Linked DNA regions of Homo sapiens. The protein of the gene in region 1 purifies or fractionates together with the protein of each later gene. This does not show direct contact. Each region holds a gene or a part of one and is shown on either strand. Other genes may lie near its edges. The genes, in order: ETFRF1, NADK2, SPATA20, CCZ1B, RCC1L, KLHL22 and ECH1.

Region 1 (3,500 bases):
GTATTTATTCATGAAATTTGAACTGTTTGCCCCGAAATGGATATGGAATACTTTATAAGCCATAGACACTATAGTATACCAGTGAATCTTTTATGCAGCTTGTTAGAAGTATCCTTTATTTCTAAAAGGTGCTGTGGATATTATGTAAAGGCGTGTTTGCTTAAACTTAAAACCATATTTAGAAGTAGATGCAAAACAAATCTGCCTTTATGACAAAAAAATAGGATAACATTATTTATTTATTTCCTTTTATCAAAGAAGGTAATTGATACACAACAGGTGACTTGGTTTTAGGCCCAAAGGTAGCAGCAGCAACATTAATAATGGAAATAATTGAATAGTTAGTTATGTATGTTAATGCCAGTCACCAGCAGGCTATTTCAAGGTCAGAAGTAATGACTCCATACATATTATTTATTTCTATAACTACATTTAAATCATTACCAGGAACTGTTTGTTTTGTAGTGAACCTTGAGTATGTGCTGTTAATATACCAAATTGGGTGAAAAAATAAGGGATTCCTTTCAAAAGTTAAGAGAAGTAAGTGTGTAAGAAATTATTTTGCTTATTAAATGTTCGGTAAATGGCATTCTCTTGTCAGTAAAATGGAGAAATAAGCTAAAAATAATTGGCTAAGTCCTATTAAGTTAGAGGATTAAGTGTATTATATTTTCATTCAAAATTGGGTGCTCATTAATTTATGATCGGTAGTATAGCTAAATTGCTATGTTTGTATCAAAATTGAGCATAAAGTTGCTGATACTTTCTCCGTATGAACAGAAGTTGAAACCTATTTAGTTCAGTAGGGCAGCTCAGGGATTTTTTACACAACATGTATATCTTCCCATTTTAAGTTAGAATTATTTTACAACATCTGGTATACATAAACAGCTGGCACTGATAGCTAAATTAAAGTAGTAATGATCAATTAGTTTTGTTGGTATCTGAATAATAGCGTTGTTTCATAGCTCTGTATTTCCTAAGGAAGTACAAAGCTTCTAGCTCTTTCATTACAAATTCGCCCTGTGCAATAAGTTCTTTGATCTTCTCTGGATTCTTCACATCTTTGTTTTTAAGGAAAATGTTCTTCAAACGCTTTTTAAAATAGTCTGCTCCTTTTGGATAGTCTCGTCCAAGATACAGCAGCTTCAAAAAGAAAGATTATATATTTCTAAACAATCCATGTCATATAATAACATTTTTATAAAATTGGCAACATAATTACTTACATTTTTATAAAGTTTTAGTACTTCTCCTCTTAAAGAATTGGCCATTTTCATTTATCATGTAAATTATCCACTTTTATGCATAACATACCTAAAGAAAGGAAAATTTTTTTGCAATTAGCTGCATTGTAGTCTTAAAAAAATAAAAAAAGGTTATACACATTGAGAAAATGGTAACCTTTTTTACATTCAATAAATATTTCTTGATAACTTTTTCGTTCCACGTACTGGGATATAGTTATAAACACTTCCGATAAAATTACCTGCTGTCATAATTGACGTTTTCCTATGGGAGACATAAGCAAAGACAATTGTGATTGTGAGAAGTCACATGAAGGAAATGAGAAAGTGGATTGTCATCACAGATAGGTACGTGTACCTCCTTTTATGCCACAGTGGAATGAGTTAAACTAGATTTAAATTCCAGTTGCATAATGTACAGATTAATTAACCTTGCTGAGCCTGAGTTTTCCTTATCAACAAACAAGAGATTATCTTTACCCTGCTCTCAAGGCAAGGCCAGAGCCACTTGAAGGACATTGAGCAGAAGCCTGATCAAATGCTGATGGGTGCTTATCCAAAGGGAGGCTGAAAACTAGCAGAAACTGGGTGAGTTAAGCAGGTTGGAATAGTAGATGGGCAGTAAGATTGGTGGTGAAGAGGCCAAATGAACAACCTGTAAGAGGGTGTCCCTGAGGAACAGGCAAAATCATGCTTCTTTATGTGTAATGTGTTAACTCTACTTTGTAGAGGAGGCTCCAAACTTAAAGGCATCATGACAGTCTAAACCTAGAAAATAATTCCCACTACCTGTTAGAGTTGAATAGTAAGCTCTTAACATTGCATCCTATCAGGTGGATGCAACTGCAATTTGTTCCATTGTGATTGATAACTTTGATTACCCAATTAATGTATTTGCTAAGATTGTCCATTGTAAAATTATTTCTCCAAGGAACCTAGTCCTTTTAATGGAGAATAGCATTTAGAAACTATAATCTGGATGGAATGCTTTAGAAACCAAGGTCTGGGTGCTAAAAATGCTAATCACCATGGGACTGTCACTGTTCCCAGGTCCTCTAAGTGACAAAGCTGCAAGTGTATATACATACGGATTTAGGTGTTGTATGTGTGTATGACTTTTATATTAATCTCCATATAATCTGCTACCTAACATTCAATTCCAATACTACAGGGTTTATTTTCATTTCCCCTCTTTACATGGGTTTAATACTCTTGCTGAACAGTGAGAAGTCTGGTTCCCACTTGTCCTTAATAAATTTACTTTTTATAATCATCACCCCTTCTCTCACTATGTAATCAAAATCCTCTTGCTGTCACCATTCGGCGCACACACTCTACTCTCTGAGCTCTGCCACCTAATGCCAGAGTGCCACTGCCACCATCCCACATGCATGGTCTTCTCTTCCCCCTTTCCCCCAACCTACCCTTCTTGGGCTCAAGCAACTTACACTGCACCATTTCCTCCCTCCTGGGTAAGGCTCACCTTTTGTTCCCATTCCAAAAACCTGTGCCACCATTTCCTTCACCCTAATAGGATGCCCTCCTCATCCCCTGCTAGGCTGCTGCTGTGCACAAGTCCCTACCCCCAGAGGCCCTCCTCACTGCATTTGGGCTCCAGTATCCCCTGCTGGGCTACTACCTTGCCAGCCTTTCTCTCGCCCCCACCTTCCCCAGATGCCTGCCTTGCTCAGCCCCACGTAATGACTTTTGGACTGAATTACTCTGATAGGCAAGCAGGAAGCAACTTTTTTTTTTTTGAGATGGATTCTTGCTCTGTCCCCAAGCTGGAGTGCAGTGGTGCCATCTCAGCTCACTGCAACCTCCACCTCCCTGGTTCAAGCAATTCCCCTGCCTCAGTCTCCCCAGTAAGCTGGGACTACGTGTGCGCGCCACCACGCCTGGCTAATTTTTTTTTTTTTTTTTTTTGTATTTCAGTAGAGACGGGGTTTCACCATGTTGGCCGGGATGGTCTTGATCTCCTCACCTTGTGATCCACCCACCTTGGCCTCCCAAAGTGCTGGGATTACAGGCGTGAGCCACCGTGCCCGGCCGCAACTTATATTTTTAAAATAGGCTTTTAGATCAGTTTTAAGGGTTATTTTATAGTTAACTAGCAGAAAATGTGGATTAAAATTACAGTACCATACTCAATTAAAAATCATGCGCTACATAATTTAAGTTCTCCTGTTAACTTCTGTTTGGGTTGAACCCCGAAGTACAATAGTGTAGATTCTCATTGTGACCTCACCTGCC
Region 2 (3,500 bases), on another chromosome or scaffold:
GAGAAGAATTAACAGGTTTTTGGGGAAAATATTAAAGACTGTTACTAATAATGTTGTGTAACATTGCAGAGAATTGGGAATGTGTTCTAAATTTCAGTAATTTCTCTAACCTTTTAATGGTAAGACATTGTCTAAGAAATCATGTGTTCTTATTTTTGTCTGATTAAAGGAGTGTTTTAAGATATTTGAAGTCATGTTATTTTCAAAGGTTTAGCAAGAAATTCTTACCAGCTTTTGCATATGCCTTTTAAACAAATATAATTATTGGACTTCAGTACTCACTGGCTGTGGCGATTGAATGTAAGGGAAGAATTAAAGCCAGTTGAATAGTGATTTAAGCCTTTCTAATTGATGCTGTTTATTAAGTGATTTTCTTATTTTTTATCTGTCTCATTTAGCCAGTTCATGTTAATAAAGCTTAATAGCCCAACCAGCGAGGCCTTTAAAGAAAATAAGAACTTACATTCTCTAAATGAATGTTGAGGATGACTTATTAGAAAGTTAGTTCACAAGAAGAAATTTGAGTGGGAATAAGAATTTATGAACTGACATTTCTGCTTCAATGTTAAGTATTCTGATGCTGCCTGAACTTTGTATTTAGATTTGGAATTTTAGGAATTTTATTATTGTTAGCAATCATAGAAAACTTGAAGTTTTTTGTTAGTTCTCCAAAACTTTTTCTCCCACAAATTCAGACCCTTTCGCCATCTCAAGCCAAAGTTCCCTAACAGTCAACGCCATGTATCTTATTTTCCTGGGGCTTGCCGAGAGCCAGGAAGTAAGCATAAAAGTTTCTGAACTACCAGACTAGCATTTACAGGGCTTACACAGTAAGGTTTATGTGCTTTTTTCCTGGGTACATGTTCCATATTGTCCAAACCAAAATTTGGAACATAAGGTAAAAATCCTGGATAGGGAATTGAAGTATGAGGGCCAGCTACCCTTGAAGTTTTATTTAAAGTAGAAGTGGTAAATTAGATATAACTGTTGTAATAGGCTTATTGTGCATTTGAATTAGTTATCATTGTCTTTGGCAGTTTGCAGTGCCTTGTTTAATACATTTGATTAAGTTCAACTAGTAGTTAAATGAACACAGTAGTAGGCAGTCAAATATTTAGATGAATTTTTTTTAGAGCTTAACTTCTAGCTGTGTAAAGTGTTCACGCCTAAAGTGGAATTGTAAGAGATAATTATAACAAAATAATATACTATAGTAACTAATCTAACTCTCCTCAGTTCTAAGGGTTGGTTTGCACACTGTTGTCACTTTCTGGGTTATCTTCTGTAGCATCTGCTTCTGCACTATTCTTGCTTTTCTGGAAAATGTATGCATGAGTTCATTCAACAAATACTTAGCTAGTACTTAGGCCCTGAGGAACAATGGCAAACAAGATAAGTAAGATCACTGTTCTCCCAGCACTTATATTCTAGTAAGGAGATTCAAAGGGATTTTTTAAAAATACCAGGAAATTTTAGGTGTGGTAAATGCAAAAAAGGGAATTAACAGGTGTTGGGATGGAGTAATTGGCAGTGGTGGCTGTTGCAGCTGCAAGGGCAGCACTAGCAGCAGCTGTTTCAGCAGTCCTGGCACCCCAGGGTTAAAAAGAGTCAGAGTTAGGTGGAGGGATGGAAAGCATTCCAGCAAGTACAAAGGAAGAGCTTGGTGAAAATAGACCAAAGAGATTAGAGTGTTGGGAATGGGGAGGAAAAATGAGGTAGGAGAAAGGAGCAGAAGTCAGGTGGCATAAGCCTGAGAGTTGGTAGGAAGAAAGTGCCATTTGTAGAAGGGCATTAAGCTGAGGAAGAGACATGCTGTGGTCTCTCTGGTTTCTGTGTTCGGAATAATCTATAGGGTGCCAAGAGTGGAAGTAGGGAACCCCTGTCAGAGGCTTGTGCAGTGGTTCACGTGTGAGATCATGAGTGGTAGAGGGGAAGAAGAGAAAAGTGCTTGGATCAAATATAAGATTTAGTAATTGGATGTGGAAATAAGCAAAAAAGGAGGCATCGGCTGTGACTCTAGACTGTTGGCTTAAGCCATAGGTGGGGAATTCTTGGGCCAGAAAATCAAGGGCTAGATATTGAACATGCTAGATACTGAATGAATAATAATAGCATTTCAAGTATTCAGTATCTAGCATGTTCAATATCTAGCCCTCTAAATTTGAGGTGCCTGTTAGATAGCCAAAGAAAGATGTCAAATAAGCAGTTGAATAAATGTATTTGAGGCTCTAAAGATAGGCCGGGTTGGGAGATAGCAGTTGGGAATCATCAGCATCAGCATATAGATCTCTTTTAAAGCCGTGAAACTAGAGATTGCCAAGGGAGAGGGTAGTGGTCCATACTCACTGAGAGGTGGTTAGTGCCGTTTTAGTCAATCTGTAGCTGGGTAATGATAGTGGTAATCTGAATATTCATGCTCTGTTGGTCCATATTAAGAAATTCTACTCTAAAATAGTTTTTCAAACCTTACTGACTCATGTTGATTTGTTGATTAAATTAAATGAAGGATTTTTCTAGTTATTATCATAGTCAGTGCTTTCCTTTAAAAAATTATTGACATTGGTTGCTTAGTCTAAGTTTAATGAGGCTTTTGGCTAGGCATTAAATTTTGGCACAGGCTGTCTAATCTATTATAGTATATCTTGGTAAGTTAACATCTATTAATTAATTTTCACAATAGCCAAATGCTTCCTCAGCTTCTCTTTTGTGAGAACATAACGAAAATTACAAAGCAAGGACAAAACTATTTAAAAACTCTTAACCCAGTATTCGTAGGCAAAAGATGGGGAAGGTAGGTATCAAAATATTAACACTAATGATTTTGAGCCATAAGATTATATTTGATTTCAATTTTCTTTAAATATGCATTTTCCATATTGTTAGTGTTTTCTTTATAACCTTTAAAAAGTAAAATATGTATTAAAATGCTGTCTAAAAATTAGTTTTACTTTATAGTTCAGTAAGTAATGATTTAAAACAAAATATTTGAGATTGTATATTAGGCTGGGTGTGATGGCTCACACCTGTAACCCCAGCTTTTTTGGAAGCAAGGTGTGTGGATTGCTTAAGCCCAGGAGTTCGAGACTAGCCTGGGCAACATGGTAAAACCCCATTTCTACCAAAAAAAAAAATAAAATAAATTAGCTGGTTGTGGTGGTGTGCACTTGTAGTCCCAGCTGCCTGGGAGGCTGAGGTGGGAGGGCGGCTTGAGTCCGGGAGGCAGAGGTTGCAGTAAGCTGAGATCACACTACCACACCCCGGCCTGGGCAACAGAGCCAGACCCCGTCTCAAAAAAAAAAAAAATCATGTCTAGACAGGTATTTGAAAGACTGATTTTGTTACATAAAGAGGAAAGGTATAAGCTGGGCACAGTGACACGTGCCTATAATCTCATCTACTTGGTAAACGGAGGCAGGAGAATCATTAGAGCCTAGGAGTCCAAGACCAGCCTGAGCAACATAGCAAGACAGCATCTCAAGAACAAAAAAAAGAAAAGAAAA
Region 3 (3,090 bases), on another chromosome or scaffold:
GTGCTTAATAAATGTTAACTGAGTGAATGAAAGGGCCTTGGGAGAGAACCACAGAGGAGGACCAACTCAGCCTAGGGAGAGATTAGAGGACACCTGTGACAGGTGTCATTTAACCAAGGCCTGGAGGGAAAGAGGGGCCATGTGGCCATGGAGAAGCTGTGGAGAGAGTTCAGGCATAGGGAGCAGTGCATGACAGGCCTGGTGCAGGCAGCCTGTATCCTGGAGGACAGGCAGGGCCCGCGTGTTCCAGGAGGGCACCGAGGAGAATGCTGAGGCCGGCAGGGCACGGAAGCCGTCTTTTTTTTTTTTTTTTCCTAAGAAAAGAAGGCTGGTCTCAAACTCCTGGGCTCAGGTGATCCTCCCGCCTCGGCTTCCCAGGTGCTGGGACTACAGGTGTGAGCCACCATGCCCGGCTGGCAAGGAGGTTTTAAGTGGATTGTGATCTGCTCTGGTATGGTTTTAAGGAGGTCACTCTGACCACTGATGGAGAGAAGTGGGGGTGGGGGAAACAGGCGACCAGTTAGGAGGCCATTACTCGTGTTCAGTCCAGGCAGGCATTGGTGAAGGCTCAGAGGATGTGGAAGTATGAGATGGGGAGACATGGTGAGATTTGGATCTCTTCTGGCCACAGCCCTGGCAAGACTCACAGATGGATTAGAAGCGGAGGGAGAGGGAGAGGAAGGGGACAGGATGATGCCGCTCTAGCTTGAGCAGCTGAGTGGCTGGACAGAGGCATCAGCAGCGAGGAGGGAGCCTGGAGACCAACAGTTGAGGCTAGGACAGGTAGAGTGGAGGGTGCCATAAAAAAGACAGCAAAGTACTGATAACTGCTGGAGTGGCATCCACACCCAGAGCGGGGAAGGGGCAGGATGGGCAGGGCCTTTTCTCTGTCCCGTCCCCCAAGTGGCCCTGGATACAGTCCTGGGCAGGGTCCTGGGACTCAGTGACCTGCCCTTACCCCCACCCCCTGCCTCCCTATGTGCTGTAGACCAGGATGGAGCAGAGCCCAGCGCCAATTCCGTGTCAGCCCACAACCTGCTCCGGCTGCATGGCTTCACGGGCCACAAGGACTGGATGGACAAGTGTGTGTGCCTATTGACCGCCTTTTCCGAGCGCATGCGTCGTGTCCCGGTGGCGTTGCCCGAGATGGTCCGCGCCCTCTCAGCCCAGCAGCAGACCCTCAAGCAGGTGGGGGGTGAGGGCATCTGGGCTGGGACCTCGGGTAGGAGGGAAGTTGGGGCTGCGATGGCAGATGGGAACAGGGGGTGGGGTTCCTGGGCTGTCCCCAGAGCTCAGGTCTGTGTGTGTGCAGGCACGTGGCCTGTCAGACAGGGAGGCAGAAGTTAATATGAGTCCGTGGTGGCTGATGAAGTGTTTCTCTGTACGTCTTGGTGTCAGTGTAATTGCTTCTGTCCATACTGTGTTACTGGTGTGTGTGTACTTCCGGGTGTGTGTGACCCTGGAGGTGTGTGTCTGTGCACCTACCTTTGAGGGGGATGCTGGTGTGAGTGTTTGTCTGTCTGCATGTGGATGCCCCATCTGCAGGTTTGCCTCTGTGTCTGCCTGCATGCGTGTGTGTCTGGTGTTTGTGTGTGTGGTATCTGCCTCTGTGTGGGCATCTACTGTGTGTGTGTGTGTGTGTGTGTGTGTGTGTGTGTGTGTGTGTGACTACTCTGTGTCTGTCTGAATGGGTCTCTGTGTGCTCTGGGTCTTCTGGGTGTGTGTCTCCCCATGTTTGTATCTGTACCATTGTGTATATGTATGACATTTCCACTTCGGTATTCTCATGTGTGAGTGTGTGTGTGTGTTCCCACTTGCCAAGCATTAACTCATCCTGGCAGCTGAGATGAGTCCCTGTTCCTTCTTAGAGATATACGGTGGGGCGGAAGGAGGATGGGGAAGCCCTGGTGGTCTAGGGCTCAGCCCTCCCTCCCCTGACACACCGGAGTGACCTTTCTATTCCGGTCAGATCGTGATCTGTGGAGACCGTCAGGCCAAGGACACCAAGGCCCTGGTGCAGTGCGTCCACTCTGTCTACATTCCTAACAAGGTACCCATCCCTGTGAGCCCAATCTGCCACCTCCCCAGAGCTGCCCCCTCCCATCCTCAGCTCCTCAACATCTCCTTCCCCTCAGAATGTTGGGAAGAGGGAACTTCCCAGTGGGCCTTTCTAATGGGCAGGTGACCCCACCCCGGCAGGTGACTCTCCCTGCTCTGCTGCTGCCCTAGGTGCTGATTCTGGCTGATGGGGACCCCTCGAGCTTCCTGTCCCGCCAGCTGCCTTTCCTGAGTACCCTCCGACGGTTGGAAGACCAGGCCACTGCATATGTGTGTGAGAATCAAGCCTGCTCAGTGCCCATCACTGATCCCTGCGAATTACGAAAACTACTACATCCATGACTGCCCCAACCCCCTTGGGGTGGGGCAGAAGGTGAAGCATCCCAACTGACTAGAGACTCAGGCCCTGCAGGGCCCTATAGAACCTGTGGCCATCCCTGAGCACCCTGCCACCAGGTGACCTCGGCCATACTCACTGCCCCCCTTGGGCACCCACTCACCCTAGAATAAACTTAACAGTGTCCCGTGGTAACCTGAGGGCCTCAGCTTTGCTTATGAGGGAGGGACTGGGAACCAGCAGCTCAGGGCCACTTCCTCTGGCAGCCCCCACCTGACCCCTCTGCCTTCTCCCATTTCTCCTTCATCTTCCAGGGGTCAGCAGACTGCCCCTTTCCCTTCCATGGTCATTGTAGCCTGAATGAATTTAGTCCCCTGAACTGAGGTCAGGGGACTAAAACCAAGTAAAGATGCCCAGGGGTGGGCATGGGGGTGTGGACTGGCCCAGGAGGGAGAAAGCACAATCCTTGCCCTCAGAAAGAGGTTAAGAAGGGAACCTGCCCTCCCCTCCCCATTGTCTCCTTGTGTTGAGCTGGAAAGGGGGCAGAGATGCTTTATATGAGCTTTTATATTTCACAGAATGGTGACTTTGCATATGCCCTGGTGCATTGTGGGAGCTGCTATTGTCACGACTAAGACATTTCTTTTGGGGTATCCATCTAGCCCCAGCCTCGAAAGGATGGAAGCAGGGCCTCC
Region 4 (3,500 bases), on another chromosome or scaffold:
ACTTACCCCTATCTCTAGGCTCCAGGGTTGTTTAAAGAGAAGTCTATAAATGACTGCAAAGTGACTCTGTATTTGTCTTAGAGAAGAAAATAATGAGGCCTTTGAAACAGGTAGTGAGGTTTATGCCTACATTTATTCAGTAAGTATTGAACTCCCTTCTCTTTTCTCAGCCTTATAGTAGGAATGTGTCCCCATTGATGAAAAAGTGTATCTATGTGCTCAAGGAACATACAGAATGCAGATAATTTTATGATTTAAAAGTTTCAGTGAGGCAGGGCACAGTGGATCACACCTGTAATTTCAGCATTCTGGGAGGCTAAGGTGGGAGGATTGCTTGAGCCCAGGAATTCAGGACCAGTCTGGGCAATATAGCAAGACCCCATCTCTACAAAAAAATTTTATAAAAGTTAGCCAGGTATCATGGTGCATGCCTGTAGTCCCAGCTACCTGGGAGGCTGAGGTGGGAGGATCGCTCGCACCTTGGAGGTCGAGGCTGCAGTGAACTGTGATTGCACCACTGCACTCTACCCTGGGCAACAGCGAGATTCCATCTCAAAAAAAAAAAAAAAGGATAAAAAGTTTGGTGATTCCATTTATTAACAGAACACTGAAAAATAAAAAAACAGAAATGTGGGTGATATTATGTATGTAAATTGAAACTTAAGGGTAAGTTGAAATTTTTGAAAGATGCCTAGAGCAATTAGGTGGTTTCATAAAACAGCATCACTTAACAGTATTTTTTGTAACTTACATTTTTAACTCAAGTTTTCTCACGTAAATATTCTCTGTTGGAAAGAACTGGGAGATTTAATGAGCTGAATTAATAATCTAAAGGAAAAAAAGAACTTGTTATACTGAAAAAGTGAGCATAGGAAACTGATTTTTTTTTCTGCAATCTTTTACCTCACTAGCTTTTTAATGGTACATTTCTGAAAGCCATGGAAGACGGAGGCGTCAAGCTTCTGAAAGAAAGATTAGAGAAATTCTTCCATCGGGTAAGTATTTTGAATTTCATTTATAACTTTACTAAGCATTCATCAGGTTTTTAGAGAAATATAGACAGACAAGTTTGTTTCTTATCTACAAAAAACCCAGAACTTGAAAGTGGCAAAGAGCCTGAGACAGACCGTCGCAAAACTGGAGCAGCGAGGAAACGCATGAGGCGTGTGCTCTGGAACCTTCCCTCCAGCTGTGGTGTAAGGCAGAGCTTCCTGCGTTTGCCCGGGGCTCTTAAAGGGTCCTGGAGACATCGTTTGGCCTCCCTGTGTTTTACCTGCATCTGTCCTTCTGGGCTTACTCAGCAGCCATCTTTTGTGTGATAGATTAGTTGATAAGGAAAACTTAATTATTGGAGTTGCACAATCTCAGGGATTGGTTCTGTTCACTAAACGGGCGTAAACTGTCTTGATGTAGGTAAGAGTTATTGGCCTTGACAGACTTTGTCAGATTAGCGATTGGGGAGATTTGTTCCAAGTGCTGTCCTCTTTCGTTGTAATTGAATTTTGCATGTTTCACCCTACCTTGTCAAGCTCAGTTTATCTTTTTTTTTAAAAGGAAACAAAGAGACAGGGTCTTGTCTTGGCTGTTTTGCCCAGGCTGGTTTCAAGCGATCTTCCCTCCTTGGCCTCCCAAAGTGCTGGGGTTAAAGGCGTGAGCCAACTCGCCTAGCCTAGTTTATCTTGAAGCAACAATTCTCAATTTATTTTCTTCTGAAAATACCTTCTGTATCTATTTTTGAATTCGACTTTCTAAAACAGCTTTCATAGCTATTTTTGAATTTTTTTGTTTCTCTGAATTACTTTTCTTTGTTGTTTTGTCATTTTAATGACCACAATTATCCACTCGCATATTATCTCCTGGTTTCTGTTCTTGTCCTCATTTCTCTCTTACCCGTCAACATATGGATAGAACTGTTGTCCTGAGTACATATCATTTAGACATGATTTTAGTATAAGATGGCACTCTTGGCTGGGTGTGGTGGCTTACGCCTGTAATCCCAGCACTTTGGGAGGCCGAGGCGGGCAGATCTTGAGGTCATGAGTTCGAGACCAGCCTGGCCAACATGGTGAAACCTCGTCTCTACTAAAAAATACCAAAAAACTAGCTGGGCGTGGTGGCGCACGCCTGTAATCCCAGCTATTCTGGAGGCTGAGGCAGGAGAATCGCTTGAACCCCAGAGGCAGAGGTTGCAGTGAGCCGAGATCGCACCGCTGCACTCCAGCCTGGGTGACAGACCAAGACTCCATCTCGGGGGGGAAATAAAGATGGCACTCTCTGTAGTATTAATGGATAGATCCCTCATTAGGTTAGTCTAATTTGAAGAGCATTAAGGCAGGGAGTTAATTTTTTTTTTTTTTTTTGAGACAGAGTCTTACTCTTGTCACCCAGGCTAGAGTGCAATGGTGTGATCTTGGCTCACTGCAACCTTAGTCTCCCAAGTTCAAGTGATTCTCCTGTCTCAGCCTCCTGAATAGTTGGGATTACAGGCTACCACGCCCGGCTAATGTTGTAATTTTATTAGAGACGGGGTTTTGCCATGTTGGCGAGGCTGGTCTCAAACTCCTGACCTCAAGTGATGTGCCCGCCTTGGCCTCCCAAAGGGCTGGGATTACAGGCGCGAGCCGCTGTGCCTGGCCAGGAATTAAATACTTGAAAGTGCTAGCTGGGCACAGTGGCTCATGCCTGTATTCCCAGCGCTTTGGGATGCCTAGACACGAGAATCACGGAGGCCAGAAGTTCAAGACCAGCCTAGGCAACATAGCAAGACTCTGTCTATACCAAAAAAAAAAAAAAATTTTTGGCCAGGCGTGGTGGCTCACACCTCTAATCCCAGCACTTTGGGAGGCTGAGGCAGGCAGATCACGAGTCAGGAGATTGAGACCATCCTGGCTAACATGGTGAAACCCTGTCTCTACTAAAAATGGAAAAAAATAGCTGGGCATGGTGGCAGGCGCCTGTAGTCCCAGCTGCTCAGGAGGCTGAGGCAGGAGAATGGTGTGAACCTGGAAGGCGGAGCTTGCAGTAAGCTGAGATCGCACCACTGCACTCCAGCCTGGATGACAGAGCAAGACTCTGTCACAAAAAAATAAATTTAAAGCAGTAAAACACAATACTGAATAAACATTAAGTAGATAGTTTGAACTTTGTATCTTGGAATTGGTACTGAGTTGACACTCAGTCACCCATGTCTTCACCACGGCCTCATTGTTGTGCTGTTTGCTAGTATGTAATTGTACCATAAATGTGAGTCTGACATAAGATTATTTTCAGTTATCAAGGAGCATTATATTCAGTGTACTATTAGTAAATTTTATGCCTTATTTTTTTTCCACAGTATTTGCAAACGCTACATTTGCAGTCATGTGACCTACTTGACATTTTTGGTGGAATCAGCTTCTTCCCGTTGGATAAAATGACTTATTTGAAAATCCAGTCCTTTATTAATAGAATGGAGGAAAGCCTGAATATAGTCAAATACACTGCTTTTCTCTATAACGATC
Region 5 (3,500 bases), on another chromosome or scaffold:
GATTACAGGCGTCCGCCACCGCACTTGGCTAATTTTTTGTATTTTTAGTAGAGATGGGGTTTCTTCATGTTGGCCAGGCTGGTTTCAAACTCCTGACCTCAAGTGATCCGCCCACCTCGGCCTCTAAAAGTGCTGGAATTACAGGCGTGACCCACCGCGCCCGGTGAGTTCTTTTCATTTTAGTGTTTAAAAACACTTCCCTCTAGTTCCTTGTATGTTGTTGGAGGGCCTTAACACCACTCTCAACTTTGGCCATGTGTTAAAATCACCTAGGATTTTGTTTGGCTTTACTTTCATGACCAGGCCTGACTCGACCTAAGATTTGACCTTGAGAGTTACCCCAACAGTTACTGTGTGAGCGGAGGGGACGGGCCATCAGTTGGGGTGACAGGGAAAGGGCTGCACAGTGCTTGTCATGACCGCATCCCTTGCTTCTTCCCAATTTGTTCCTGGCTGTAGTGAAAGTCACAGAGTCCACAGGATGCAGGACTTCGATGGCCAGGTGGTCCAGGTAAGAGAGATGGGCCGAGAGCTGCTTGTTGTGTTCCTGGGGTGCTTTTGAAAAGTTGAGATTTGGGTAGGGTGATGGCAAATTTGTTAGGGGGATTTTCTGAATTAAATTATTTTAGTAAAAATTGTAGCCTACTTACTATAGGCCAGGATTTATGCTAGATTCTAGGGATACAAAGTTTAATAAGATTTTGGGGCCGGGTGTGGTGGCTATACCTGTAATGCCAGCACTTTGGGAGGCCGAGACAGGTGGATCACCTGAAGTCAGGAGTTCCAGACCACCCTGGCCAACATGGTGAAACCCCGTCTTTACTAAAAATACAAAAATTAGCCGGGTGTGGTGGCACATGCCTGTAATCCCAGCTACTCAGGAGGCTGAGGCACAGGAATTGCTTGAACCTGGGAGGTGGAGGCTGCAATGAGCTGAGAGATTGCACCACTGCACTCCAGCCTGGATGACAGAGCAAGACTCTGTCTCAAAAAAAAACAGATTTTTGGGGATGACACTCTAGTGAGTGAACAAGTTAAAAAGCTAACTGAGGCCGGATGTGGTGGCTCACACCTGTAACGTCAGCCTCTGGGGAGGCTGAGGCAAAAGTATCACAGCACTTGCTGTATTCATGCATATGTGCATTGAAATATTTATGATAGGTACCTACCATGAGCCAGGCACTATTCTGGGGATGAGAATAAAATGGAGAGCAAAATACAGCTGGCTTAGAACACCACAGCACTAATCATACTGTGATACGGCTGGCTTTTTGGTTTTATTTGGAAATTTTTTAGAGGCAGGGTCTCATTCTGTTGCCTAGGCTGGAATGCAGTGGCACGATCATAGCTCACTGCAGCCTTGAACTCTTGGGCTCAAGTGATCTTGCCTCAGCCCCCTGTGTAGCTGGGTCTACAGGTGTGCATCACCATCCTCGGCTAATTATTTTAAAGAGACAGATTCTCACTGTGCTGGCCAGGCTGGTCTCAAACTCTTGGCCTCAAGCCATCCTCCCGCCTTGGCTGCCCAAACTGTTGGGATTATGGGTTAAGCCACCATGTCAGGCCTCCTTCACCTATTAGACTGAGTGACTTTGTGCAAGTTACCAGACATCTCCAAGATAGTTTCTTTTTCTTTTTTTTTATTTTAGTGCAGTGGCACAATCTCAGCTCAGAGCAACCTCTGCCTCCTGGGTTCAAGCGATTCTCGTGCCTCAGACTCCCGAGTTGCTGGGATTACAGGCATGTGCCACCATACCTGGCTAATTTTTGTATTTTTAGTAGAGATGGGGTTTCACCATGTTGGCCAGGCTGGTCTTGAACTCCTGACCTCAAGTGATCCACCTGCCTTGGCCTCTCAACGTGTTGGGATTACAGGAGTGAGTCACTGTGCCCAGCTGAGATTCAGTTTCTTACTAGGTGGTTTTGGTTATTGACTTAACACAATGCCTGGTGTAAAAATTGTTCAATAGATGGTGCTTTTCTTTAGGCAGTTAGAAAAATGAGTTTGGAACTGAGGAGAGTTGTTGAGACCAGAGATCACAGTGCAGAGGCCACAGTTAAGCATTGAGAATGGCTCCCATCTCCCAGGGTAGCATGAGGAGTGAGGAGAGAGGAGGGCAGGAGACACACCCTGGAGAGAGATCCCAACAGCAAAGGGTCTGAAGTAGAGGCTGAGTGTGTGAGCAAGGCTGGAAGCTGTGAAAGTAGAAGAGAGGGCTGGGAGGAGAAGGGTTATGGAGAAGGGGTGGTTCTTTGGAGATGGCGTGGGATGGATGGCAGAGCTCTTGGATTTGCCCCTTTGGAGATCTGCATTTTACTTTAACAAGAGCAGTTTCAATGCAGTGGGAGACTGGTAGATTGAGAAGGAGTAAGATGAGCATGGAGCAGTCTGCCTGGACCATGCTCCAGGTGCCCAGGAGCGGCAGGCGATGGTGCTGGTCCTTCTTTGGATGAGGACACCAGGGTTCTAAGTATTTCCTCTCATCCCCCTTACCTCTGTTTGTCTGCTAGGTCGCCTGTGGTCAGGATCATAGTCTGTTCCTGACGGATAAAGGAGAAGTCTATTCTTGTGGATGGGGTGCTGATGGGCAAACAGGTAGAGTTCTTTTCATGCACTGGGGTCGTGAAACTTCTCAGCCCGTGTCATGTGGAGCTGTGAGCTGTAGGGCATTTATGGGCTAGAACCCTTCTTCCTTAATTCAGCTCTTACCTCTTATCACTTTCTGAGGAACACTATTCTTGGCTCCATCGCCCAAGCTGGAGTGCAGTGGCGCGATCACATCTCACTGCAGTCTCAAACTCCCAGGCTCAGGTGATCCTCCCACCACAGTCTCCAGAGTAGCTGGGACAACAGGTGTGAGCCACCAAGCCCAGCTAATTTTTTGTAACAACAGGGTTTCGCCATGTTGCCCAGGCTGGTCTTGAACTCCTGACCTTAAGCAGTCTGCCTGCTGTGGCCTCTTGGTGGGCTGGGATTCCAGGCAGGAGCCACTGTGCCCTGCTGTAATACTTTTTTTTTGCATCCCTTCCATTCCCCTCAGCCCTGGCTCCCATAGAAATGAACTGAGAGAAGGCTGGGTGCAGTGGCTCACACCTGTAATCCCAGCACTTTGGGAGGCCGAGGTGGGCGGATCACTTGAGGTCAGGAGTTTGAGACCAGCTTGGCCACCATGGCGAAACCCCATCTCTACTAAAAATACAAAAATTAGCTGGGTGTGGTGGCACACGGCTGTAATCCCAGCTACTAGGAAGGCTGAGGCAGGAGAATGGCTTGAACCCGGGAGGCGGAGGTTGCTGTGAGCCAAGATCGCGCCATTGCACTCCAGCCTGGACAACAGAGCAAGACTCTGTCTCAAAAACAAACAAACACAAACTGCAGAGAAAAGGACAGGCAGGACCTGCCCAAAGGCAAATGTCATTATTGGCACTTGGTATGGGGGTAACCCCTGGCCAGCAGCCCAAGGCAGAGCACTGAACTGTAGACTCTTGCCTTCATCCAG
Region 6 (3,500 bases), on another chromosome or scaffold:
ACCACACACAGACTGGCCAGCTCTGTTGCTCCCCTTGCTCCTGTGCCTCCCTCAGGCTCACCTGTTTTCCCTCTATTTCCAAATCCCCTAATTCCTTCTCCCCTCCCACCTCTAGTCCAACTTCCTGATGGCCTTCTTCCTGATGACCTGTGTGCCATCATGCCCAAGACTCTTCATCTCATTGTATCTTCTTCAGCGGCAAAGTCAAACAGAAGGGTTTTGGGAAACAGACTGACCTGGGTTGGAGCCCAACTCCACAGGGACTTACAACATGACCAAACTGAGCCTCGAGCTCCCCAATTTTAAAAAGAGAGATAAAAGTACCTACCCCATTGGGGTATTCTAAAATTGGTAAAACAATGAACATGAAGCATAAGCACACACCAGGTTCTCAAGAGCTCTTCCTCCCTCCCATTGAATGAACAAAATTGGGTTCTTCCTCATAGTAATGGATGCATAAAAATGGCAAGACCTGAGTAGTGGTCAGGAGACACACAGCCAGGAGTCTGGGAGGTGGGTGCCAAGGGGGTGGCATTTCCAGGGCCTACTTTCCTTTACTGAAATTCTGAGAGTCAAGCACAGTAACTGTGATTGAACCTGATGCATTTAAATTCATCTGCATTGCCTTTTAAATTAAAGATTATCTTCTAATAATTGAGTCAGTACGTTCAAAAACCGCAAACTGATTTGAATTGGAGCCTCTAAAACCTAATCAGTAAAATGAACCTACTGCAAATGCACTTTTGCCATGGAGCAACCAAAAGTGACTGTGGATAGCCAGCTGTTCAGGTCAGGGAGTGGCCAGTCCCACACTGTGAGGCATGGCCAAGCTGCAGGCTCTGTAGGCACAGCACAGTCAGCTACAAGATGTGAACATCTGTCTTCTCCACCTCACTTCATCCTACTTTCCTCTCCCCAAAATATGTTTATTCTCCAATTACCTCCAGTCATGCATCACTTAATGTTGGGGATACATTCTGAGACTTATATCGCTGGAGGCAATTTCCTCAGTGTGTGAACATCAAAGGGTACACCTACACAAACCTAGGTGGTAGAGACTACTACACATCTAGGCCATAAGGTACAGCCAATTGCTCCTAAGCTACATACTTGTACAGCATGTTACTGTAGTTCTGAATGAAAAAAACACACTGTTTTTCCTCTCCTCTTATACCACAACAACAAACACAGGAGACTTCTGTGACCAAATGTGTGAGGGTTTTTCCCCATTAACAAGCAAGCAATCAATTCTGCCACAGATACCAGCTGGGTGTCTTCTAATTCAGCAGTCCCCAATCTTTTTGGCACTAGGGACCACTTTCTTGGAAGACAATTTTTCCACGGGGTCGGGGAATGGTTTCGGGATCAAACTGTTCCACCTCAGATTATCAGGCATTAGCTAGATTCTCTTTCGGAGCACACAATCTGGACCCCTCACATGCATGGTTCACAACAGGGTTTGTGCTCCTATGAGAATCTGATGCCACCTCTGATCTGACAGGAGGTGGAGCTCAGGTGGTAATGCTGGATCACCCTCCACTCACCTCCTGTTGTGCCACCTGGTTCCTAACCAGCCACAGACTGATACAGGTCTGAGGCCTGGGGGTTGCGGACCCCTGCTCTAATTCAACTCTAACACTACCTGGAGACAGTGTCTGATCCCACAGGTTGAGGGCTGAGTCTCCCAGGTTGTTTCACCTGTGCTTCTGACCAATAGGCTATAAATTGGGTTCCCAAGATCCCCTTCTTGGGTTCAACTAATTTGTTAGAGCGACTCACAGAACTCAGGAAAATACTCATGTCTACTGGTTTGTTATAAAGGGTATTGCAAAGGATACAGATGAAGAGATGCATGGGGCCAGACATGTGGGAAGTGGTGCAGAGCTTCCAGGCCCTCTCCAGGAACATCACTCTTTAGGAGCCTCCATGTGTTCAACTATCCAGAAGTTTTCCAAACCCAGTCATTCAGAATTTTTATGGAAGCTTCATTATGTAGGCATGACTGATTAAATCACTGGCCATTGGTGATGAACTTAATCTTCAGCCTGTCTCCCCTCTCCGGAGGTTGAGAGGTGAGGCTGAAAGTCCCAACCCTCTTATGCCTGCCTTGGCCTTTCCTGTCACCAGCCCCCATCCTGAAGCTACCTAGGGGCTGCTGGCCAGCATACAAAAAGGCATCACTCTGGAAAGTCCAAAGATTTTAGAAGTTGTATGCCAAGAAATGAGACAAGACCAAATATATATTTCACAATATCACAGTACTGAATACTATAGGCAACTGTAACACAATGGAATTTGTGTATCTAAACACAGACAAGGTACAGTAAAAATATGGGACCACCATCCTTCATGTGGTCTGGTCTGTCATTGACGGAAACATCACTGTGTGGCACATGATTATATATCTTTAAAAGAAAAAATGAAAAATATATGCTGATATAAAACTTGCCAAAAAGAAGAGGTCTCTCTCTTCACTACTGAGGCTCAGGGCCACCCCCAACCCCATCCCCTGGATGCTCTACTGCTTCCCATCAAACACACTCAGTTATCTGTGCCTGCCCCTGAGTCTGCCTCCAGGACCTGGGACCTCTATCCAGCCACCCACCCATTCCTTTCCCCCTCCTGGGCTGGCTCATCTTTCTCACCAAGGCCCCAGAGATGGCCACAGCCAAGGTGTATACCCCATGACCACCTCTCACTTAGGATTCTCTTGCCTGGAAACTCTGCTCTATGATAATTCTCCCTTTTCTGACCTCTCTCTTTCATCCCACACACCCTGCTCGAGCCCATCCTTCTTTCCCAGTGGTTCACATTCCCAGTTTCACCTACAGCTCAGTGCCTAATCTAGCTAGTAGCCCTCCAACTTGTCTAATTTTACTATCAAAGCTACCATTTCCATCTTGGAAACCTCACTGTTTTAATATTTTTCCTTTCTAACCCATGTGCCCTATGAACCTACTAGTTCTGATTCCTTCACCTCTCCTCCATCTCAGACAGCCACCCTCCACTCCTCCAGGGCCACCACTCTGGGTCAGACCACAGCAGTGATGCCCCTACCAGTTTCCCTACCTCTTGTCTCATCCTCCCCAGGCTGCTCTCCTTCAAGCCTTACCTACTCAGCCCCATCAGCAGTCCTTAGTCCAAAAGGGATACCTGTCATCCCCTGAACACCTTTAGTCACCCATCTAGGCCATTCTGTCTCTCATAGTCCCATATTGGTCAAGGTCTAGCTCGATTACTTCTCCCTCTATCATTGTACAGAGAACATGACAAATATGCCCCACCATTCAAACCTGCCCTTTTTTTTTTTTTTAGACGGAGTCTCGCTCTGTCACCCAGGCTAGAGTGCAGTGGTGTGATCTTGGCTCACTGCAACCTCTGCCTCTCAGGTTCAAGTGATTCTCCTGCCTCAGCCTCCCCAGTAGCTGGGATTACAGGCGTGCACCACCACACCCAGCTAATTTTCTTGCATTTTTAGCAGAAATGGGGTTTCACCATGT
Region 7 (3,500 bases), on another chromosome or scaffold:
GTCAACAGATGTTTACGACTCCAGTCCCCATGATCTAAGTCAAGGTCCCAGTGGGGATCCATACTGGGGATGGCTTGCTGACCGATAGGGAATTTGTCCCTTTCTTCAGGTGTCATTCTATCATTTACTTGATTAAGATTCCAGGTATCTCCAAACTCTCAGGCTGCAGCTAAAGCTGCATTCTTTTCATTAAAGGCCAGGGTTTGATCTAACAGTAGCATGACATCTCTCCAAGCGAGGTCGAAAGTTTGCCCTAGACCCTGTAGGGCATGTATGTACCTATCAGGATCATCTGAAAACTTCCCCAGGTCTGCCTTGATCTGCTTTAAATCAGAGATGGAGAAGGGGACATGTACCCGGGTGGGACCAAATTCCCCTCCCCCTACAGCTTGAAGGGGACATAACCAATAGCCAGGAGGGTTTTGTGGTCCTTTGGAGATTTCTTTGCATATTTCCTTCTGGGCAGGGGAGATTAGAGGAAGATTATCATTAATAGGAATGGGAGCTATAGGGAGGCTAGGATATGGTGGTAAGCTGAGAGGTCCTCCTGTGGGATGTAAATTGTAAGCTTTGCATAGTTGTGTATTCTCCCTCCATGAAAAGAAAGCTTGGACATAAGGTATTTCACTCCATTTGCCTTCCCTCTTACAGAAAAGGTCAAGCTGCAGGATAGTATTGTAATTTGTACTTCCCTCAGGTGGCCATTTTTCCCCATCAGAGAGAGAATACTGGGGCCAGGCCATAGTGCAGAAAAAAAATGAGCCTCCTCTTTTTCAGGGTTTATGGGTCAAATTGGTCCCAACGGCTTAGGATGCATTTCAAGGGTGAGCCTGTTGATGGCTGAATGTTTCCCATCTGAAAGACAAAACCACCCGCGGTTTTGGTTTGTTTTGTTTCTCCCCCTGCCCAAGAAACTGCAACAGTCCCTGTACCCTGCTGATCGGAATAGTTGTGCTCATCAACGCAGCAGCAGAAACACTAGTTTTCCTCTCAGACCACATGGAGGACCAAGGAAGGTCGGATTTAGTGGCCCTTACCGACGCATTCTTGAAAACCTGTTAGAGTTCTAAGCATTCTCCTGTTAGTATTGGGACTTTACCCCTGTCCTATAAAGATGTTATGCCCCAAAAATGAAGTGGAGGGCCATACCCTGAGGGAGGGAAGGGATCTCCAGGGTTGGAAGAGTGACACCTTTTGTCCTCACTTATATGAATAGGAAAGCTACAATTTCTGAGGCTCCCCATATCCTAGCTTCAGGAATACCTTTGTTAGGCCTGTTAGTCTGAGGAGGGATCGTAAAATTCCAGGTAGTCGCCACTATGACAGGGCTTTGGGCAAAAATTATGTCTTTCTGATTGGTGAGCCTGGGTGCCTAAAGAATGTAACAGAGTTCTAGAAGTCGTTCTTATAGGAGAAACTAGAAAAGCACCAGAGACAGCAAATTTTAGAAGCAGGACTAAACTCGGAGAAGAGAGGTGAGAGGAAGTTTGTCTGGCAGGCATTAGGACCCGGGGGCAAGAGTCAGGATAGATAGGATAGATGGGCGAGTCTCGCTTGGGCGACATGCCTTTGAGTGTTCCGCTCATGGCTGCAGGGTCAACGAACTTGTTGTCTTGTCGGGACCCTAGAGCTGCATGGCTTTCCTCTCTGTCGACCCTCGGCTCAGCCCAGAAGTACAGGAAAAGCAGAAGCTGGTTCTAGGCAAACCAACGCTCCCAACTCCAAAGAGTCGGGAGTTGTTAGAGAGCCCTTTCCCAGAAAGCCTGACACCCATGTCTTTAGTCCAGCGGCCATGCTAGTCACTTTTAACTGGCAGACAGGTGCCTGGTATTTAGCCCCCAAATTCTAAGGAAAAATAGGACAGAATAGCAAGTGAAAGGGGTCCAGTGGTACTCACTGCTTGGCGATAGGTGATAGTCTCACCGCTCAGCGATAGGCAGTGGTCTCACCGCTTGGCGATAGGTAATAGTCCCATCTGGGTCACCAAAATGTATCCGGAATTGGTGGGTTCTTGGTCTCACTGACTTCAAGAATGAAGCCGCAGAATCTCGTGGTGAGTGTTACAGTTCTTAAAGGCGGCATGTCCGCAGTTTGTTCCTTCTGATGTGTTCGGAGTTTGTTCCTTCTGATGTTTGGGTGTGTTCAGAGTTTCTTCCTTCTGGTGGGTTCGTGGTCTCGCTGGCTTCAGGAATGAAGCTGCAGACCTTCGCAGTGAGTGTTATAGCTCTTAAGGCGGTGCGTCCAGAGTGGTTCGTTCCTCCCGTCCGGAGTTGTTCATTCCTCCCAGTGGGTTCGTGGTCTTGCTGGCCTCTGGAGAGAAGTTGCAGACCTTCGCGGTGAGTGTTATGGCTCATAAAGGCAGTGTGGACCCAAAGAGTGAGCAGCAGCAAGATTTATTGCAAAGAGCAAAAGAACAGAGCTTCCATAGCATGGAAGGGGACGTGAGTGGGTTGCCACTGCTGGCTCGGACAGCCTGCTTTTATTCCCTTATCTGTCCCCACCCACATCCTGCTGGTTGGTCCGTTTTACAGAGAGCTGATTGGTCTGTTTTACAGAGAGCTGATTGGTCCATTTTGACAGGGTGCTGACTGGTGCGTTTACAATCCCTGAGCTAGACACAAAACTTCTCCAAGTCCCCACTAGATTAGCTAGACACAGAGCACTGATTGGTGCATTTACAAACCTTGAGCTAGACACAGGGTGCTGATTGGTGTATTTACAAACCTTGAGCTAGACACACAGTGCTGATTGGTGTATTTACAATCCCTTAGCTAGACATAAAGATTCTCCAAGTCCCCACCAGATTAGCTAGATACAGAGTGCTGATTGGTGCATTTACAAACCTTGAGCTAGACATAGGGTGCTGATTGGTGCATTTACAAACCTTGAGCTAGACACAGAGTGCTGATTGGTTGTTTACAATCCCTTAGCTAGACATAAAGAGTCTCCAAGTCCCCACCAGATTAGCTAGATACAGAGTGCTGATTGGTGCATTTACAAACCTTGAGCTAGACACAGGGTGCTGATTGGTGCATTTACAAACCTTGAGCTAGACACAGAGTGCTGATTGGTTGTTTACAATCCCTTAGCTAGACATAAAGTTTCTCCAAGTCCCCACCAGATGAGCTAGACACAGAGCATTGATTGGTGCATTTACAAACCTTGAGCTAGACACAGGGTGCTGATTGGTGCATTTACAAACCTTGAGCTAGAAACAGAGTGCTGATTGGTGTATTTACAATCCCTTAGCTAGACATAAACGTTCTCCAAGTCCCCACCAGATTAGCTAGATACAGAGTGCTGATTGGTGCATTTACAGTCCCTCAGCTAGACATAAATGTTCTCCAAATCCCCACTAGACTCAGGAGCTCAGCTGGCTTCACCCAGTGGATCCTGCACCAGGGCCGCAGGCGGAGCACTCCTCAGCCCTTGGGCAGTTGATGGGACCAGGCGCCGCCGAGCAGGGGGTGGCGCTCCTCGGGGAGGCTCGGGCTGTGCAG

What was found.
Region 2: the proteins of ETFRF1 (region 1) and NADK2 purify together in Homo sapiens (affinity purification with mass spectrometry; 2 studies listed by BioGRID and IntAct, with this or other methods). This does not show direct contact.
Region 3: the proteins of ETFRF1 (region 1) and SPATA20 purify together in Homo sapiens (affinity purification with mass spectrometry; 2 studies listed by BioGRID and IntAct, with this or other methods). This does not show direct contact.
Region 4: the proteins of ETFRF1 (region 1) and CCZ1B purify together in Homo sapiens (co-immunoprecipitation; 2 studies listed by IntAct). This does not show direct contact.
Region 5: the proteins of ETFRF1 (region 1) and RCC1L purify together in Homo sapiens (affinity purification with mass spectrometry; one large-scale study listed by BioGRID and IntAct). This does not show direct contact.
Region 6: the proteins of ETFRF1 (region 1) and KLHL22 purify together in Homo sapiens (affinity purification with mass spectrometry; 2 studies listed by BioGRID and IntAct, with this or other methods). This does not show direct contact.
Region 7: the proteins of ETFRF1 (region 1) and ECH1 purify together in Homo sapiens (affinity purification with mass spectrometry, with the first as the bait; one large-scale study listed by BioGRID). This does not show direct contact.

The regions. Positions count from the first base shown.
Region 1 is NC_000012.12:25,201,737-25,205,236, reverse strand, and holds the end of ETFRF1 (electron transfer flavoprotein regulatory factor 1), read right to left. Parts: exon of another isoform or gene 1,405-3,500; intron 1,318-1,404; 5' UTR 1,281-1,317; coding exon 1,230-1,280; intron 1,147-1,229; coding exon 925-1,146; 3' UTR 94-924; downstream 1-93. UniProt on the Homo sapiens protein: Acts as a regulator of the electron transfer flavoprotein by promoting the removal of flavin from the ETF holoenzyme (composed of ETFA and ETFB).
Region 2 is NC_000005.10:36,228,426-36,231,925, reverse strand, and holds part of NADK2 (NAD kinase 2, mitochondrial), read left to right. Parts: intron 1-3,500. UniProt on the Homo sapiens protein: Mitochondrial NAD(+) kinase that phosphorylates NAD(+) to yield NADP(+). Can use both ATP or inorganic polyphosphate as the phosphoryl donor.
Region 3 is NC_000017.11:50,553,263-50,556,352, forward strand, and holds the end of SPATA20 (spermatogenesis-associated protein 20 isoform 1 precursor), read left to right. Parts: intron 1-988; coding exon 989-1,188; intron 1,189-1,969; coding exon 1,970-2,050; intron 2,051-2,229; coding exon 2,230-2,400; 3' UTR 2,401-2,590; downstream 2,591-3,090. UniProt on the Homo sapiens protein: May play a role in fertility regulation.
Region 4 is NC_000007.14:6,819,776-6,823,275, reverse strand, and holds part of CCZ1B (vacuolar fusion protein CCZ1 homolog B), read left to right. Parts: intron 1-911; coding exon 912-995; intron 996-3,334; coding exon 3,335-3,500.
Region 5 is NC_000007.14:75,060,303-75,063,802, reverse strand, and holds part of RCC1L (RCC1-like G exchanging factor-like protein), read left to right. Parts: intron 1-459; coding exon 460-511; intron 512-2,511; coding exon 2,512-2,596; intron 2,597-3,500. UniProt on the Homo sapiens protein: Guanine nucleotide exchange factor (GEF) for mitochondrial dynamin-related GTPase OPA1. Activates OPA1, by exchanging bound GDP for free GTP, and drives OPA1 and MFN1-dependent mitochondrial fusion. Plays an essential role in mitochondrial ribosome biogenesis.
Region 6 is NC_000022.11:20,489,296-20,492,795, forward strand, and holds part of KLHL22 (kelch-like protein 22), read right to left. Parts: exon of another isoform or gene 536-3,500; coding exon of another isoform or gene 473-535; intron 1-472. UniProt on the Homo sapiens protein: Substrate-specific adapter of a BCR (BTB-CUL3-RBX1) E3 ubiquitin ligase complex required for chromosome alignment and localization of PLK1 at kinetochores.
Region 7 is NC_000019.10:38,821,795-38,825,294, reverse strand, and holds part of ECH1 (delta(3,5)-Delta(2,4)-dienoyl-CoA isomerase, mitochondrial precursor), read left to right. Parts: intron 1-1,897; exon of another isoform or gene 1,898-2,455; intron 2,456-3,500. UniProt on the Homo sapiens protein: Isomerization of 3-trans,5-cis-dienoyl-CoA to 2-trans,4-trans-dienoyl-CoA.